2 separate regions of the Homo sapiens genome follow, and region 1 is linked to region 2. Evidence: fine-mapped expression QTL. Tissue or cell type: cerebellum. Region 2 holds a variant in brackets; the other region holds the start of a gene. All regions are shown on one strand. Distances are between the middles of the regions.

The links. PIP is the estimated chance that this variant, and not a neighbour inherited with it, causes the effect.
Region 1: it holds the start of WWC3, and the variant in region 2 is fine-mapped to the expression of WWC3 in cerebellum (GTEx, PIP above 0.99). The same link has a PIP of 0.9 or more in cerebellar hemisphere.

The regions. Positions count from the first base shown.
Region 1 is chrX:10,010,341-10,018,445 of GRCh38, reverse strand. WWC3 (WWC family member 3) reads right to left here and starts at 3,192. Exons shown (of 24, transcript NM_015691.5): 1 at 2,773-3,192; 2 at 2,588-2,770. The coding sequence starts at 2,867. RefSeq lists silencers at 3,220-3,279, 3,320-3,489 and enhancers at 3,310-4,193, 4,194-5,077.
Region 2 is chrX:10,112,986-10,121,090 of GRCh38, reverse strand. It overlaps WWC3 (WWC family member 3), which reads right to left. Exons shown (of 24, transcript NM_015691.5): 11 at 4,584-4,673; 12 at 3,402-3,967. Among named protein-coding and RNA genes, the nearest start is that of CLCN4, 40 kb to the left of the region's middle. RefSeq lists an enhancer at 1,368-1,662. The variant A/G (reference allele first, on the strand shown) is at 3,457.

The DNA of each region.
Region 1 (8,105 bases), 100 kb after region 2:
ACCATATTTTATGCTATACAGTTTTTACTAAAGTTTATATGAAATTATGTTTAAAGTCAACAACAATTTTCACTTAACCTACTACATTCATTTATTCCACCACAATTTCATTTTCTTAAAGAGAAAAAAAAAGCTATTATGTATTTGCCTTTCTCCTGTCAGGTCTCTATGTGGAAGCTGTTTGGTGAAAGTCCTCGTATTTCTTGAATACCATTTTCCTGTGTGACTCAAAAGCAACTCAAAAAGGGTTTTAACTGTCAGATGCGCATGGAGAAAACACTGCCCTCTGACATGCAGTTCTTCCCATATAATAAAAGTTAATTACAACTTTAAAGGGTAACCCGCCACCTATAAAACTCGGCCAGGTTCTGTTTTGAAAGAGGAAGAAGAATGACTATTACAGCCTTCAGCCGACTCCACTTAAATGTTTGTGGCTTGCTGAACATTCCATACATATTTCGGGCAAGGTATTATGGGAGCTGAAGTTCAAGCTGTCCCCTGCTGAATTTTCACTCACTATAAAAACAACGTCTCATAAAAGTACACACGTTTTTACTTTACAAAAAAAAGGTAAAATATCCACTTTTGTTGACTCAATTGACAATTTTAGCATCAGAACGGAGACTTTTTAAAAACCTTTAAGTGATTGTCTGAAAAGTAACAAATCGATTTCTGGAAAAAAGGAATATAGGAAATGTGTCTGAAATACATGGAAAACAAGATTCTCCAAGCTGATTTCTGTATGGTCCATTCACGTTTGTCACAGGTTACACCATTAAAAAGAAAATCCTCACATTGATATCTTTCAGCATGAATCTCCACTCCAATATAACCACAACTGTTTTATATTACCCTTGGAAAGTGAGCCTTAGCCTTTTCTAAGCAAAACACTATTTTAATTGGTTCATTTTCCAGTTGTTTGGGTTTTTAACATACATATGGTATAAAAGGGCACTGCATTCCAAGCAGTTCTACCAATTCCAGAACCATCCAAGGGTTGATCAAACAGCTGGGGCTCTAGCCTTTGGTTAAAATTATAACATGATCTCACCTGATTTTCAAAATAACTAGGCATCTTTTTAACCCATAAAATTGTACTAGGATTGATATAGGTTTCTGAGCCCAGAGGTTTGCAATGTTCAGCGAGAATGTTAGGGAATCACGATCTTTTTGTTTTGCTTTCTTTTGTTTTCCCCTGCTTGAACTCAGAGAAATCTTCAAACAATTCAGCAGCTTCTCTCCTCAAAAGTTTATTTTCAGACGCCAGTGCCATGCAGGCCGCCTTCCCTGTGCAGGTAGGAGGAAGCAGGCACAATGTCACCACACTGGGCCTTTGCAAGTCTTCAAATCACTGGGAAGCCTGTGGTGTTTCCTTTTTGGCACTCAGGCCCTGGAAGGAGAGTTGCTCTAGAGAGGACAAGACATCAGATAACCTGTGGAAACACTTGATGTCCACAGAAATCCCAATTCCACACAAAATACATCTCTGTAAAAGCAGTTGAACAATCGAAACCCGTAGACAATCGAGCAAAAAGTTAAGGAAGAGCTTCGTTACATGGAATTAATTAAATGAAATCTGATAGTGCTTTTACAAGAATCAGTTTTTACTTGATTGGGTTTTTATACGTGAATAAGACAGCTTTGTACCCCATGCATATCTTTCACAAAAAGGAAACTTAAAATACAATTCTTGTTTTTCGTTTATTCCAAAAGCATATGGGACTAATCATATTGCATTCTGGCTGCAGTACAGAAGGCTATTTCAAACAGTTTTAACTCACGAGTTTTAAGGCGCTAAAGAGCAACTAGAGTTTGGGAACAGACTTCTCCAACTCCAAAAGGGTTGGGAATCCCTCAAGGGCCCGTCTGACATCAGGTTTTGGATGGAAACCAGCCTGAACCCGCCAGACAGGGAACCCGCACCCCAAAGCTGGGGCGCACGTTTGTGATCCAAGGTGACAGCTCATCTCGCCACCGCGGGGCTGGGGACACCTGCAGAACCAGGGCCGGGGCAGTGGGCCGCAGACGCCCGGGACCGGGATGGGCGAGGCTGCCGCAGAGAAAGGAAAAGAGGGCCATCTGTCAGCCCCAGGAGAGGAAATTCCAGGAGCCCAGTTCCCAGGCGCCGGACAGCGGGTGACGTGAGGGAACCGAATGAGAGGGTCCGCCCAGCGGCGGGGGACCTGTAGGCGGCCGGCCTCGGCGCTCAGAGGGCTCGAGGCCTGGAGAAGGGGCACCTCCATTCTTGGTCAGAGCCCTGGGAGTCGGGGTATTGGGAGGGTGGATCCTCTCCCGGACCCCCGGAACCAAAGATCTTCACCCAGCCCCGAGGGCCTCCTGGTGTCTCCGATCCTCTCCCTGGGCCCAAGGGATGGGGGCGCCTCGATCGTAGCCTGGACCGGAGCACTCCAGGGAGTCCCCTGGTTCCGGGGATGGAGGCGCTCCGAGCTCTGCCCGGGCCCGGGGGCTCTCGGCGGCGGCCCCGCGCTGGGCGGGGCGTGTCCCCAGCGCATCCGCGGTGGCGCCGGCCGGCGGCCCGGGTCGTAGCGCCCGCGCCGGGTCTGGCGCCCCCAGCCGGCCCGCTTACCGGTCGCGGGGGTCGATCCACGACGTCTGGCGCGTGTTGTGGTCAATGTAAAAGACGCGACCGTCGTAGTCTCGCGCCTCCTCCCAGCCGGCGGGCAGCGGCAGCTCGGCGCTCTCCCGGGCCCGCGGCGGCGGCGCGGAAGGAGCTGGGGGCGTGGGGACCGCGGCGGGGGGCGCCGGCGGCGCGGTTCCCGCTGGGGCTGCGCAGAAGGCGGCGGCTCCCGCGGGGCCTCGCGCGGCTGTCCCCGCCGTCGCCGCCGGCCGCCGCTCAGCCAAGGCATGACGGCGCGGGCCCCGCCGCCGCCCGGCCGCCCCGCGCGCGCCGCCTCCTCCGCCAGCACTAAGGCCCGGCGCCCGGGGCGCGGGGGCGGCCGCGGGGAGCCGCCCGCCGCTCCTGGCGCATCCTCCGCCCGGCGCCCGTGCACCGGCGTCCGCCCGCCCGCCCTAGCAAGCCGCTGCCCGCGCCGCCCACTCCGTTCAGGTAGCCCGGGTGGCCGCCGCGCGCGAAGTCACAGCCCGGGAGCCGCCGCCGCCGCCGCCGCCGCTGCCGGCCGCCCCTCCGTTCCCGCGGCGCGCCCGGCCATCTTCGTTCCTCGGCGCGGCCCGGGCGAGCAGGGGCAGGGCGTTCGCAGGCCCCGCCTCCGGCCGTCCCGCCCCGTTCTCACCCAGGCCCCGCGGCTCCTCCCACGCCGGCGGCTCCACCCACGCCGGCTGCTCCTCCCGAATCTCCCACGGAGGCTCCCGCTCCTCCCGCCGCCTCTGCTTTTCCACCCACTCCCGCTGCTCCGCCTCCCCCGGCCCCGCGTCCTCCGCGCCTCTCCGTCGCCGGCTGCTCCGCCCCCAGTCTCCCTCGGGGTCCTCCTCGGCGCTCGGCTCCTCGACCCCACCCCCACCCCTCCGCTTGCTCCTCCCCCTCCGCCGTCCTCCCTCTCCGCGCGCTCCTCGCTCTCTCCCTCCCGCTCCGCCACCTTCCTCCGGCCTCGGGAAACCGCATGGAGGCCAGGATGGGCGCCGCCGCGTCAGTCCGCCCCCGGGCCCCCGCGTAGAGGAAGGCGGGCGGGGAGGACGACGCCCTACCCGGACTGCGGGCGCGGCCTGCCTGGGGTGACTCCTCGGGCGCAAACAATTCCCGAGAGAGCGGGCAGTGCCCTCCCTTCACCCGCTCCCGGGCTCTGGCTGTCTGGAGACCCTCTGCGCACTTGGCGGGAGGCTGCGCCCTCGGTCTCCCACACAACCCGTCTGGTCCCGCGAAGGTGGGAAAAGCCCCTGAAGGCGGGGCCGAGGGAGCTGAGGAGCTGGGGGAGCCCGCGGCCGGTCCTCTCGGGCGGCGCAGGGAGGACGCCTCTGGAAGCGGGCAGCTGGGCAGGTGGCCACTTTGCGTCCCCGCCAGGACAGCCCTAGAAGGGCTAACCTGGGGGCCCACACTAGGCGGGAGTTCCTTGACCTTCCCTGAGCGCTTCATCCGGTTTGTGGGGTCTGATCGTTTGAGCGGAGACCCAAGTAGACCATTGCTGGGGAGGAAGCCGGGTCAACTCCTAAAACTTTCAGCCTAGACGGGAACTTCTGTTTCACTGGCTCCCAGCTGGGGAAGCTGAAGCTCCAGAGTTGGGGCTGTGTCTTGCTCTAAATCTCCCACCTACTTCGTGCCCCAGACCCACAGCCGCAACACGTTATGCCAGGAAATGCAGGACAGTATCAGGGAGATTTTTAAACAGTTACAGTGATACAAAAATATCTGGTAGAGCCTGATTGAAATCCAGATACACAGGGGAAGAGACTGGAGGAAAATGTCCTGAAATGCTCACAAGAGTTTGCATTCCTTTGGCGGGATTTTTAAAAATGATTTGCCTTCCAATTTTTTGTAAAATGGTAATATTACTTTTATGAGGGGAAAGGTTGTTTTAAAAAAGAAGAATGGGCCGGGCGCGGTGGCTCACGCTTGTAATCCTAGCACTTTGGGAGGCCCAGGCGGGCGGATCACGAGGTCAGGAGTTCGAGACGAGCCTGGCCAGCATGGTGAAATCCCCGTCTCTACTAAAAATACAAAAATTAGCCGGGCATGGTGGCGCACGCCTGTAATCCCAGCTACTCGGGAGGCTGAGGCAGGAGAACTGCTTGAACCTGGGAGGTTGCAGTGAGCTGAGATCGCGCCACTGCACTCCAGCCTGGACGACAGAGTGAGACTCCATCTCAACAACAACAAAAAAAAAATTAGAAGAATGTGGGGCCGGGCTCGGTGGCTCACACCTTTAATCCCAACACTTTGGGAGGCTGAGGTGGGAGGATCACTTGAGCCAGGGAGGTCGAGGCTGCAGTGAGCCGTGTTTGCACGATTGCACTCCAGGCTGGGCGATGGAACAGAGACCCTGTCTCAAAAAAAAAAAAAAAAAAAAAAAAAGAAGAAGAAGAAGAAGAAGAATGTGAAGTTGTGAAGGTATAGCGACGTCCAAAAAACTATCCAAGGAAGGTCTTTCCTCTCCCTCCTCCTACTACAACACAGAAACTTTCTTGCTCCCCAAGTATCTATCTACCCCTACCTGAATGTTCTATGTGAGAAATTCCACCGCATGAGTCCTTTTAAACATGTGTGATTATTACATGTCCAAGGGAAAGAGTGGGAGGGTCAAAAAAGCACATATTTTGTGATGTCGCATGTGCCAGGGAATGCCCCAAGTGCTGAGTGTCCCTGCTCTGACATCTTCCCTTCCGATTGGCATGATTTATCGCCAGTGGGGCTGCCACTGCCTTCTTACCTTACCACCCAACATGGCCGTTCTGAAGCTGCATTTCCACCCTCCCTGTCACCTGGTCCTTTTAGAATCTCACAAATCTGGACACAAATCTATCACTCGAAAGTACTTTGAATGGGGCTGGGGCGTATTGGAGTGAAACCGACTTCTGCAGAGAGAGAGTGGAAAGAGGAGAACACATACACCACACATCAAAGGACTCAGAAGGAAAGGCAAGATGAAAAAAGCATCAGGTAGAGCAAGGAGTGGGGGAAACTGCATCCAATTAGGAGCTCAAAGAGGCCAGCGCCGAGGAGTCTTCACTGAAGGTGAAAGATTTCTACCCGTTCAGGCGGGCAGCAAATAGTGGACCTCCCACGCGCAGACACTGTGCTGCGTGTAGGCATGCTGCAGGGAAGAGGATAGTCTGTGCTTCAGCTTGCACTCCCTTGGGGACTAAACATAGAAATAGGCCCTTGTAATACAATTGTCACTTGTCAACAAATGAAGCCAGGGTGCCAACCTCAATTTGGGGACTCGTGGGAGGCTTTGTGAGACCAAAGGGAAGGTGCCTCAGATGAGGAAACTGAGGCTCAGATGTTCAGATTCCCAAGTTCTGAGCTCTTGCCCCTTGGCACATGGAGCTGCTGTCATGAAATTGTTTACTTGTATAGCAGATGCTGGGGCGGGCTCCCTTCTTTTGGAGTATTGTGAAGATGACCCTTCATTAACACAGATGTCTGAGAGATTACACCCAGCCCCAGGAGCTGACCGTCCAGTTTCCTTGCCTTGGTGACACAAACTCGAATGCCCTTGACACCCCAGAGCTCCCCATGGGATCCCCCATGGGATCAGGCTGAGGCTGTACTTCTCTGGAAATCATAGCTTTGCCAGCTCCTCCCCTGCCCGGTCCCGCCTCCCTTACTCGTGTAAGCATGCCTCCAATCAGCCGCTCACTCGAGAACCCCCGTCTCAGGCACCCTTTCTAAAGAGCCTGACCTAAGATAGGCTCCTGCACACTTACTGTCATCTAAGCACTTAGCAAATACGAGCTCATTTAATCACCAAAACATCTAGAGGCATTCCTACTTTCATTTGCACATTAATAGAGGCAAAAGAAGTGTGACACAGCATGCCAGAGAAGAGAGATTGGAGACCCTCACTGAGAAAACTTCATCCACATGCCCAGCCACTGCCTCTGGACACTCTCTGCCTGAGAGAACAGAAGTGGGGCTATTGCATTTGTCTTCCTAAAAGGAGCTGAACCAGAGAGGAAGAGGCCAGCGCTTGGGGTGACCAAGACCTCTTTATTACACCATTAGTCCTTTTCCACTTGTGTGCAATGTTAGCCCCAGGCGTTTGCTGATGGTCCCTAAAGACTTGTGAATGGAGATGGAAAGGAAGAGAAATTGGTAGGGGTGTGAAGGGACTCTTGACTTCCCAGCTTTGCCATAAATTGGGATCGATCTCTCTCTCTCTCTCTCTCTCTCTCTGTCTCTCTCTCTCTTTGTGTGTGTGTGTGTGCGTGTGTGTGCGTGTGTGTGTGTGTGAATTGTTAGAATAAGGCCTGTCTTTCTTACAGTCAAGTGGGGCTTTCCACATCGGACTAAAAACCACACACACACACAAAACACTGCAGGGCGAAGGAGTCTTGAGTCCTAACTGAATGCACAATTCTACATTCTTTATTTCCTCCGCATTAAAACCACAGCCGGGCCAACAGCAAAAGCACGAACATTGTGTAGTGCTCCATCCTCCCACCAAGACTTCACATGGAAAAGCAGCTCAGGAAAAATCCACTTAGTCTCTGGGGAAAGGAGATGCAAATGCTTTTGTTCTCCTCCCAGACCCTCTGGGAAATCCCCTTTCTGAAGCTGTTACAATGCACTGATCTCTAACTTGCAGAATACTTTCCTTAAAATGATGGTTAAGGAGTAACTCCAACAAGGACAGAGTCTGAAGATTTTTACTATCAGATTCTGCCTTCTCTCCCCAGCCCTCGCCTAAAGGATAAGCTTTATTTGTAAAAAGGAAAGTGCAAAATTGGATCCATACACATTCAGTACTTGATAAGCGTCTAGAAAAGGAAAATCTGTAAAGGCTACAATCATCAAGTGTAAAATGAGAAAAATAAACACCGCCAGAGAAGTCTTGCCTACCTTGTATAAACAATCAAGTGTTCTAGGAAGCGACACATTGGGTAATTCTACACATTGTGCTAAGAGGAAAACGGAAATGGGCCGGATTAGGTCTGAAGAAGAAATGGTTCATTGTTTGGCATTCTTTAAATGCTAGAATAATTACTCAATTATGGGTGTTTCTCATATATTTAAATAATGCAAATCCACAAGCACTGGAGGAGATTAGATGTTGTTCTTGTTCATTCCTGTCTTGCTGGTTTAGGGGCATCAAAGGAAGGGTAAATTGCAAAGATCCCTAAGGGGACCCTCCCCAGGCTCAGGAGTTGGAATGGGGACAGGGTGAGGTTATTTCTTGGTGTTTTATTTCATGGCTTTATGTAAAGACGTAAACTTTAGACACTTATTTGACTTGTATTAAAAAAAGTCACTGTTTAGATTTCGTGTGTGGACGGGGGGCACTTTTCTCAACTGGGACTTCCTTGATTTGTGTAGATGCGTCCATTTTGAAAATTCAGGTTTTTCTCATGTCCTAATCTTCCACTCCAAAGACAGGCAGGGTATTCCCAAAGCGTCCACTGTGTGGATAAACCTGCCAGTCTGCGTTTGGTTCATTTTAGCGCTTAATTCCCGTGTCTGGATGCGCATCACA
Region 2 (8,105 bases):
AGAGGAAAGAAATGAAGGAGCTAATCCTCGAAGCCCAGGCTGAGTCACTGGACCCACAGGGTGGGTGGAAGTAGGAACTGCCAGGAGGAAGTCCTGTCGGCAACTGCCCCGGCTGAGAAAAAGCACAGACTCCACGCTCCACACCCCGGACACCTGCCCTGGGGCTTCAAGGCACAGAGGTGGACCCTCAGGAGCAGTGCCAGGGAGACAAGGGTCAAATCTTCCCCATGTTCATGTGAAAATCTCTTTACTCCCTTTTCATCATTCAAGACAGACAGACACTAAGAGCCAAGGATGTGAACAGTGCTTGGTAAAAAGGAAGAAAATACAGTCAAAACCACAGCATAGCAGAGCTGCCAGGTGGCATATGACAGCAACGAACGCCATTACATTCCAGAAACAAACACATACAGGGAATGAACAGTGAAAGCTTCTAGGAAAGTTCTTAAACAGCTTGAATATTAACAATGAGATAACAATAAGGCCAATTGCCAACTTGTGTTGAAGCACAGCTATAAGATAACCGTCGTTGGCCACACCCCAGCCATCCTGAACACATCCATCCACAGCACAAACGTATGCCTGGGGCCTGAGCAACAACGCTGAGCAAGGGGACTCCCAAGGCCACTTACAGTGAGCACTTCTGTCGAGCCGCATGAGGAGATAAAAAAAAAAAAAAGCACAAAGTGAAAACACTGCAGAATTTAAGCCAACAACATTAAACAGAATATCAATATCATAAAAACATCAATATGAGCAAAGTCAAGATTTTTACAGGTTTTGATTAGCAAATACTAATGGGTAGATGAAAATAGCTAAGTATTTCATAATCATAACACATTTGACTTTTAAAATCCAGGGAAGACAAAACTGTAACAAAAACGTAAATAGTATGAAAAATCACAGTGTATTGCCCCACTCCTCTGACCTGCCTTCTGTTTCCTCCGATTGATTGAAAACACAAGGAAAAAATCATTCAGAGGCTGGTTTGCAAGTTTGGACAACTTTGATTTTTATCTTACAAAAATTTTGTCTTACTAAGACTTGCTGGGGGCCAAACTTAGACTGCAGTGTTCCCAGCACAGCTGATACATGATGGGGCAGGGGAGGCGAGGAGCCCCCCCTGTGTCCATGCCTGAAGCTGGCTACCCAACCCGGCCCTCTGGGGACACCCAGCAGGGTCAACTATTTCAAGTTTCTAAGGATACAAATAAACGTGTCCTTAGAACAACATAATACATATGTGTCCTTGAAACAATGTAATATATGTAACATATAAAACCATCACCAGATGGCAGTATCATAAAAAGCTACCGCTAGGCGGCAGTGTCACGCAAGAATCCACCACCGATGTCATATAAGAATCTACCACCAGATGGCAGTGTCACTCAGGAATTTATTGGCGGTGTCATATAAGAATCCGCCACCAGATGGCAGTGCCATACAAGAATTCATCACCAATGTCATATACGAATCCGCCACAAGATGGCAGTGTAATACAAGAAATAATCACGAATGACATATGGCTCCACCACGAGATGGCAGTGTCTACACACGTAAGCAAATACTTCCCAGTCCAAGAAGTTTCAACCATTATAGCATCTGCCACGGAAAGCAAAGGAAAAAATAAAGAAACCAGGATGTGAAATTAAGTCAGCGCTTCTCCCTCCCACTCTGTCTCTCCTCTGACCCAAAGTGGCCCTTGGGCCTTGTGCAGATTTTATGCCTAACTAGACTGACATTCTGGAATCTCAATCCCTTAAGGAGAAGGTGGTGGGAGAGAGGAGGGAGACTAAGAAAGAAGTCCTAATTGGATATTTCTTTTCTGACTGAACGGAATAAACATGGAGCAATCAACCTGTGGTTATAAAGAGGAACAAAGCTAATGAAGGATACCTGCATATATGGACTTCAGAAACAATGTATCTGGGGATACCAAAGTGTGTTTGCAAACACAGGGGCAGACACCAAAATAGAGATGCCAAAAAGCCCTGGGGCAGTCTCAGAACATGATGGCCTCTGGTTACGCACGTAAGTGCCAACAGACTACTATTTTATAGAGTGATCAACCTATCTATTGATCTACCAATCCATCTATCTCTTGGGTAACAGAATGGTGGCAAATGGAAGGGGTCACAAAGATCACTGCATTCAAGGGTGGAAAAGGTGAGACTCAGTCCAGGTATGTGTTCAAGGTCACACAGCTAGAAGTGGACAGGGCAGGGAACAAAAGCCTGGTCTCCCAGCTGCTAGTTTGAAGCTGTTTCCACTACACCACACTGGTTCTGCTCTCTAGTTTTATTTCTACCCCTTGCCGCATAAATACTCCATAGTACGTGACTAGGGTTTCTCAGCCTCAGCCCTCTTGACATTTGGGGCTGGACCATTCTCGAGGGGGAGGGGGTGCTGCCCTGTGCATGCCAGGAGCATCTCCCATCCCCTAGTTGTGACAACCAAAAATGTTTCCAGACATTGCCAAGTGTTCCCCAGGGGCAGGACGCAAAAACACCCCTGGCTGAGATCCACTATGCTGCACAAATTATCTAGTGTTTGCCTAAATGGAACATTTAAAACATTTTTGCCGTGCAAATAAAAGTCAATTAAATGGGCTGAACTTCAGGAACGGGAGACCTTGTTCTTGATCCTCTTTAAAACCAAAGGAAGATAAAGTTGCCATGGGTGGCTGAGAAAAGCACATGGGGTCAATATTCCCTTCAATAGCAGTTTGGTCTTCCAAGCAGGCTACAAGCTGAAAGACCCCAGCTCCGAGGAGGAGCTGAACCAACACCAACTGAATGGATGAGGCTCCACGGAGCTCCGTGTTTTTCCATTTGAAGAATCACCAGAGAAACCAAATCAGTAGAAATGACCGATACTTACAGGCATGTCTTTTGAAATTACACAATTATTTTCACTTCCACATTTGATAGACCTATGTTCTTGGAAACTATGAAAACTATAAAAGATAAAGAGATGTCAAAGCAACAAAAGAAGTCAAGATTTCCACTAGCTACAACCAGACACCTGTTGGCATAATGGTCTCAGGCGGGCACACACTGACGGTTCCATCTCGGCACGCACGCTGCAAAGGTCATGAAGGCCCTAATCCATCTCCAGCAGCCTCTGAATGTGGAAGCCTGTGTAGTTCTTACCCTAGTTTTCAACAATTAAGTATTTTTTGAAAACAAGCCAAATACCTAGGAAAGACAACTTTGTCAATTTCAATGATCTTTCCCCAACACAGATCAGAAAGAGCAGGTGTGTGCTCTTCCCGATCACATCAATATTCCTAAACGTAAAGCTCACCATGGACCTGGAAAGCCAGCCATCCTCACTCTGGACCCCACAGTTTCCGCCCTGCAGGTAACCCTCGCCCCGCAGGAGGCCACATCCGCACTTACTTCCACCCACGGGAGCGCTGGCTGGTGGGGGTCCTCGCTCGTGCGGCCCTTCCCC[A/G]TCCCCGGGGACCCCGTGTGGCTGAAGGGCCGCCATGCCTGGTAAGTCTTCGTCCCCCATAGCCGAGGCGTGTGCCCGCAGTCTGTCTAGGGCGCCCAGGCCTGGCCCCTCACAGCTGTCCGCCAGCTGCGCCAGCGGCGAGTCCCGTGAGGCAGGGAGGAAGGGCGTGTCCAGGGGCGAGCTTGGGGGCGACAGCGAGGACAGCGAGGAGCGGGAGGACAGCGATGCCAGGGACTGGGGCGTGTCCAGGGACCGCCTCTGCTTGTGGAAGCCCGAGGGGCCTGGGGGCTCTGAAAAGGGAGCATCTCGCCCCAGAGAGTCGAAGGGAATGAGGTCGAAGCGTAGAAGCTGGCTGCCCTCAGCGTCGGGCTTCTCGTACTGCGGGAGGCCGTAGATGTCCGTGAAGCTGACCGAGCTCAGGGAGCCCCGGCTGGAGGCCAGAGACCCACGGCTGGAGGCTAGGGACCCGCGGCTGCTCCCCGAGGACACCGTCAGGGTGCTGGCACACAGGCTGAAATGAGACAGCATGGCCATCTGAGATGGCAGGGCAGCCACCCCTGCTCACCCTGTGAGCACGGAAAGGGTGGCAGAGAGCAGTGGGCAACAGCAGAGACCCGTGCCCAAGTCCCAGTCCCAGTCCTGGCTGGAACACATACTAGCCAGGTACACTTGGTCAAGCCATTCACCCCCTCTGGGCTCCCACTGGGGCTGGGGTGAGAACAGTTCCCACCTGGGGCATTGTTAGGAGGAATATCTGAGAAAATGACACATCTGAGGCCCTTGACATTGGCCATTCTTGAGCAGCCAAATCTTACTAGCTTAAAAAGTTCGTATGCTTTTAAAAAAAACCCAAAACAAAAATGCGCACGTGTATAGATGTACACTTCTGAAACTGTTAATTAGGTTACAAAATCCTTGAATACATCTGACTTCAGGCCTCTTATTTACCCTGAAGCCAAATGTGGTTCTCTCCATATTCCTTGAGTCATACAGTAGTAGCATGTTAAAAATATAATGTATCCATTCTGTGTTAACAACATTTCAGGTCAAGCTACAAGAAACGAGTTCATGTACCAGTCATTGGAACATGATGAACAAGTACAGTTTTCTCTTTGAAAGTAACCTACCTTTTTAACTGGGACTGGAGGTAGGATGTTAAGCGGGTGGCTTCTTCCAGCTGCATAAGTAGACAATTCCTTTTTTCCTGAAGCAGAATCCTGTAGGTAAGAAGACAGTCGATTAGTACATTTCAAAGACAGGGAGAATATTTTCATAACAAGACAGTCCACTATCAATTCCCTCCAGCTGAATTAGGTTGCAATCACCACCCATTCTAAAAGCACCCAGGTCACAAGGGCCAAGATCACAGAGACTGCTTTTGTCCCGTTTGAAAAATACATCCCTGGCACCCTGAGCAGTGCCTGCTACTCTGTGGAAGCGCCAGGCACAGTGCACGGGGGAGGGGATGCGTGAGAAGAGGAGTGGGCACAGGGATGGGTCAATGTGTGGGTGGGTGGCTGGATGGGTGGGTGGCTGGATGGGTGGGTGGGTGGCTGGATGGGTGGCTGGGTGGCTGGGTGGGTGGCTGGATGGGTGGCTGGGTTGGTGGATGGCTGGCTGGGTAGGTGGCTGGATGGGTGGCTGGATGGGTGGCTGGGTGGGTGGCTGGGTGGGTGGCTAGATGGCTGGCTGGGTGGGTGGCTGGGGATGGCTGCTTGGATGGATGGGAGGAGTGGTAAGTGAGCAGAAGGACAGATAACTAGCAGATGAGCTCAAACGCAGAGCACGCAGTCATCTGTTGAAATTCCTTGGAACAAATCAGATTCCCTCATACTAGGCCACCTTCTAGAGAAGAACAAATATAATTCTAAGATCTATACAGTTAAAACATTAGAAGCAAATGAAACAAAACAGCAGCCGTTGCCATCTCCAGGCCATGGGGTTGGAGGTATTTTTGTTTTCCTTCCTTCTACTTTTTTCTACTTAGTAATTTTGTAGAATAAAATTTATTCCTACTGCAGTAGGCCCACCGCCTAGAATCGAGCCTATTGTGGATAGGCACTCAATACACAGTTGTTGGACAACTCCATGAATAAATATGTTTGCCTCTAGAAGGAAACACTCCTGGTTTACAAATGGAAATGACACTGTGACGTGTGGCCACAGTAGGCCCCTTTAATACCTTCCTCTTTCCACCAACAGGGAAGGGGACATGCCGAAGGGGTTTAAAGAGCTTGGCTAGGTGGGAGTGAGAGGAAACCAGACACAGTGTCTGACAGCAGCCTGGGATTCAGAGAATCCCACCTGGCCAGTCACTCACAAGCTGTGTGGCCTTAGGCAAATGTCTCACCCTCTCTGAGCCCTTAGTTTCATTACCTGTAAAAATGGAGTCCACAATCTCCAGCTCAGGGAACTGATGCTGCATAGATAAAATAATGTACGGCAGATGACACGTGATTGACAAAGAGCTGCTATCACCCATAAAGGAAACAGATGCGCCACCAACTTAGGATAAGGAAGACAAACCAGTCTGAGTTTGTTTACAAGTTTCAACCACATGCCATAAATTCTGATGAGCCTTTGTTTCTCTTGATGCAAACAAAATTCCAAATGGTGCCATGCAGAGGTCAGCTGGCAAGAGAGTAACAAGCATCGTCCTAAATGGAGCCACGACACAACCCACTTTCAAGTTCAATATCATATATTGAAACCAATGGTTTCCAAAGCATGATCCAAAGACCCCTGGCGGATCCCCAAAACTCCTTCAGGGGTCCTATGAGGTCCCCTCCTTCCCAATGGCATATCGGTAAGCAGCTAGATGGTCTTCACGTGTTCACTCAAAATGACCCTATCTCAACAGGCCGAATGCACCAATGGCCAAAGCAGCTGCCTTCTAGCAAGCCAGACGCTAAAGAGATGGATAGCAAGGGCAAATAATACCACTCTTCTCACTATAGTTTTTTGTTTCAAAAAAGTTATCAGTCATAAAAATGTTACTAATATTAACACATAATAGGGTTTGTATTGTCTTTTTTTATTTATTGAGATGGGGCCTTGCTCTGTTGTGCAGGCTGGAGTGCAGTGGTGCGATCAGAGCTCACTGCCACCTCCACCTCCCGGGCTCAAGCCATCCTCCCACCTCAGGCTCCCAAGTAGCTGGGACCACAGGCATGTGCCACCATACCCAGCTAACTTTTGTATTTTTTGTAAAGATGAGGTTTTGTCATGTTGCCTAGGCTGGTCTCTAACTCCTGAACTAAAGTAATCCTCCTGCCTTGGCCTCCCAAAGTGCTGGGATTACAGGCATGAGCCACTGTGCCCGGCCTATTGTTATCTTTAATAAATAAATATTTTAAAAATTTCCCAGCGCTAACTTCTAAATTAGCAAATACTGACAGATAAAAATCCACATAAACACTGATAGGTCCCTGGGTGGGGAAAAATGAAAAACAAAACAAAACAGTTAGAAAAAAGAACTTTAAAAAAACCAACACAAACAAAAGCTCTTTGGGATCCTCAGCATTTTAACATCGGAAGGAGGTTCTGAGACCAAAATGTTTGAGAACAGCTGTAATAAACTCTTGAGTAGAATGTTCTAAGATTCCACTTACCTATGATATTTTAATTTTTAAGGAAAATGTTTTGATAGCTTGTACAAATGAAAGTAACGTTTAAAAAGCAATTCTGGGGCCGGGCGCGGTGGCTCACGCCTGTAATCCCAGCACTTTGGGAGGCCGAGGCGGGCGGATCACGAGGTCAGGAGATCGAGACCATCCTGGTTAACACGGTGAAACCCCGTCTCTACTAAAAATACAAAAAATTAGCCGGGCGTGGTGGCGGGCACCTGTAGTCCCAGCTACTCGGGAGGCTGAGGCAGGAGAATGGCGTGAACCCGGGAGTCGGGAGTCGGAGCTTGCAGTGAGCCAAGATCGTGCCACTGCACTCCAGCCTGGGCGACAGAGCGAGACTCCATCTCAAAAAAAAAAAGTTCCACTGAGGGGCTTATAGAAAGGCACACTGCTTTCTATGCACTGCCTCATTCCTTACTGGTCTTTGGATTCTATTCCTGCTTTACAGATGAAGAAACTCATATAAAGTAGCTTGCGTCTGCTACGCAAGCTCAAAGTTCGGTCAGGCTGGATTGACCCTAAAGCCAAGGCACACTACCAACAAACAGGCATTTCCTTTACTACTGAAAAACATTTCCCCAATTTTCTGTGATACTCACATCCTATCTGACGCTTATCAAGGGCGATATCCTCAAAAACCCCATCTTTTTCAGAAGATGGAGAGCCGAGAGTTTTCAAAGGGAGTTTAAAAGTGAGTTCAAAATACATCCTTCATTGAGCTTTGGAGCTGTAACTTGGAACCCACTCTCACAAGCACCGGGACACTATTAAGTCACAGAGGACTCCAGGGGCAGAGACGACACCAGCAGAGCGTATCCAGTGGCAAACAGTGACCAGCTCCAAGAAGCCATTTGTTGTAGGGAATTTACCCAAGCCCGGTCCAAGGCTACTAACTTTTTTCTTAATGCTTTTCAGAAATTCTAACCCAACCTGAATTCTATTAGCTCAAATCCCAAATTAATAGAATCTAAATTGAGTTCCTACTGAAAACTGGCTCCACTCTTGAGTGACCAGGGTAGA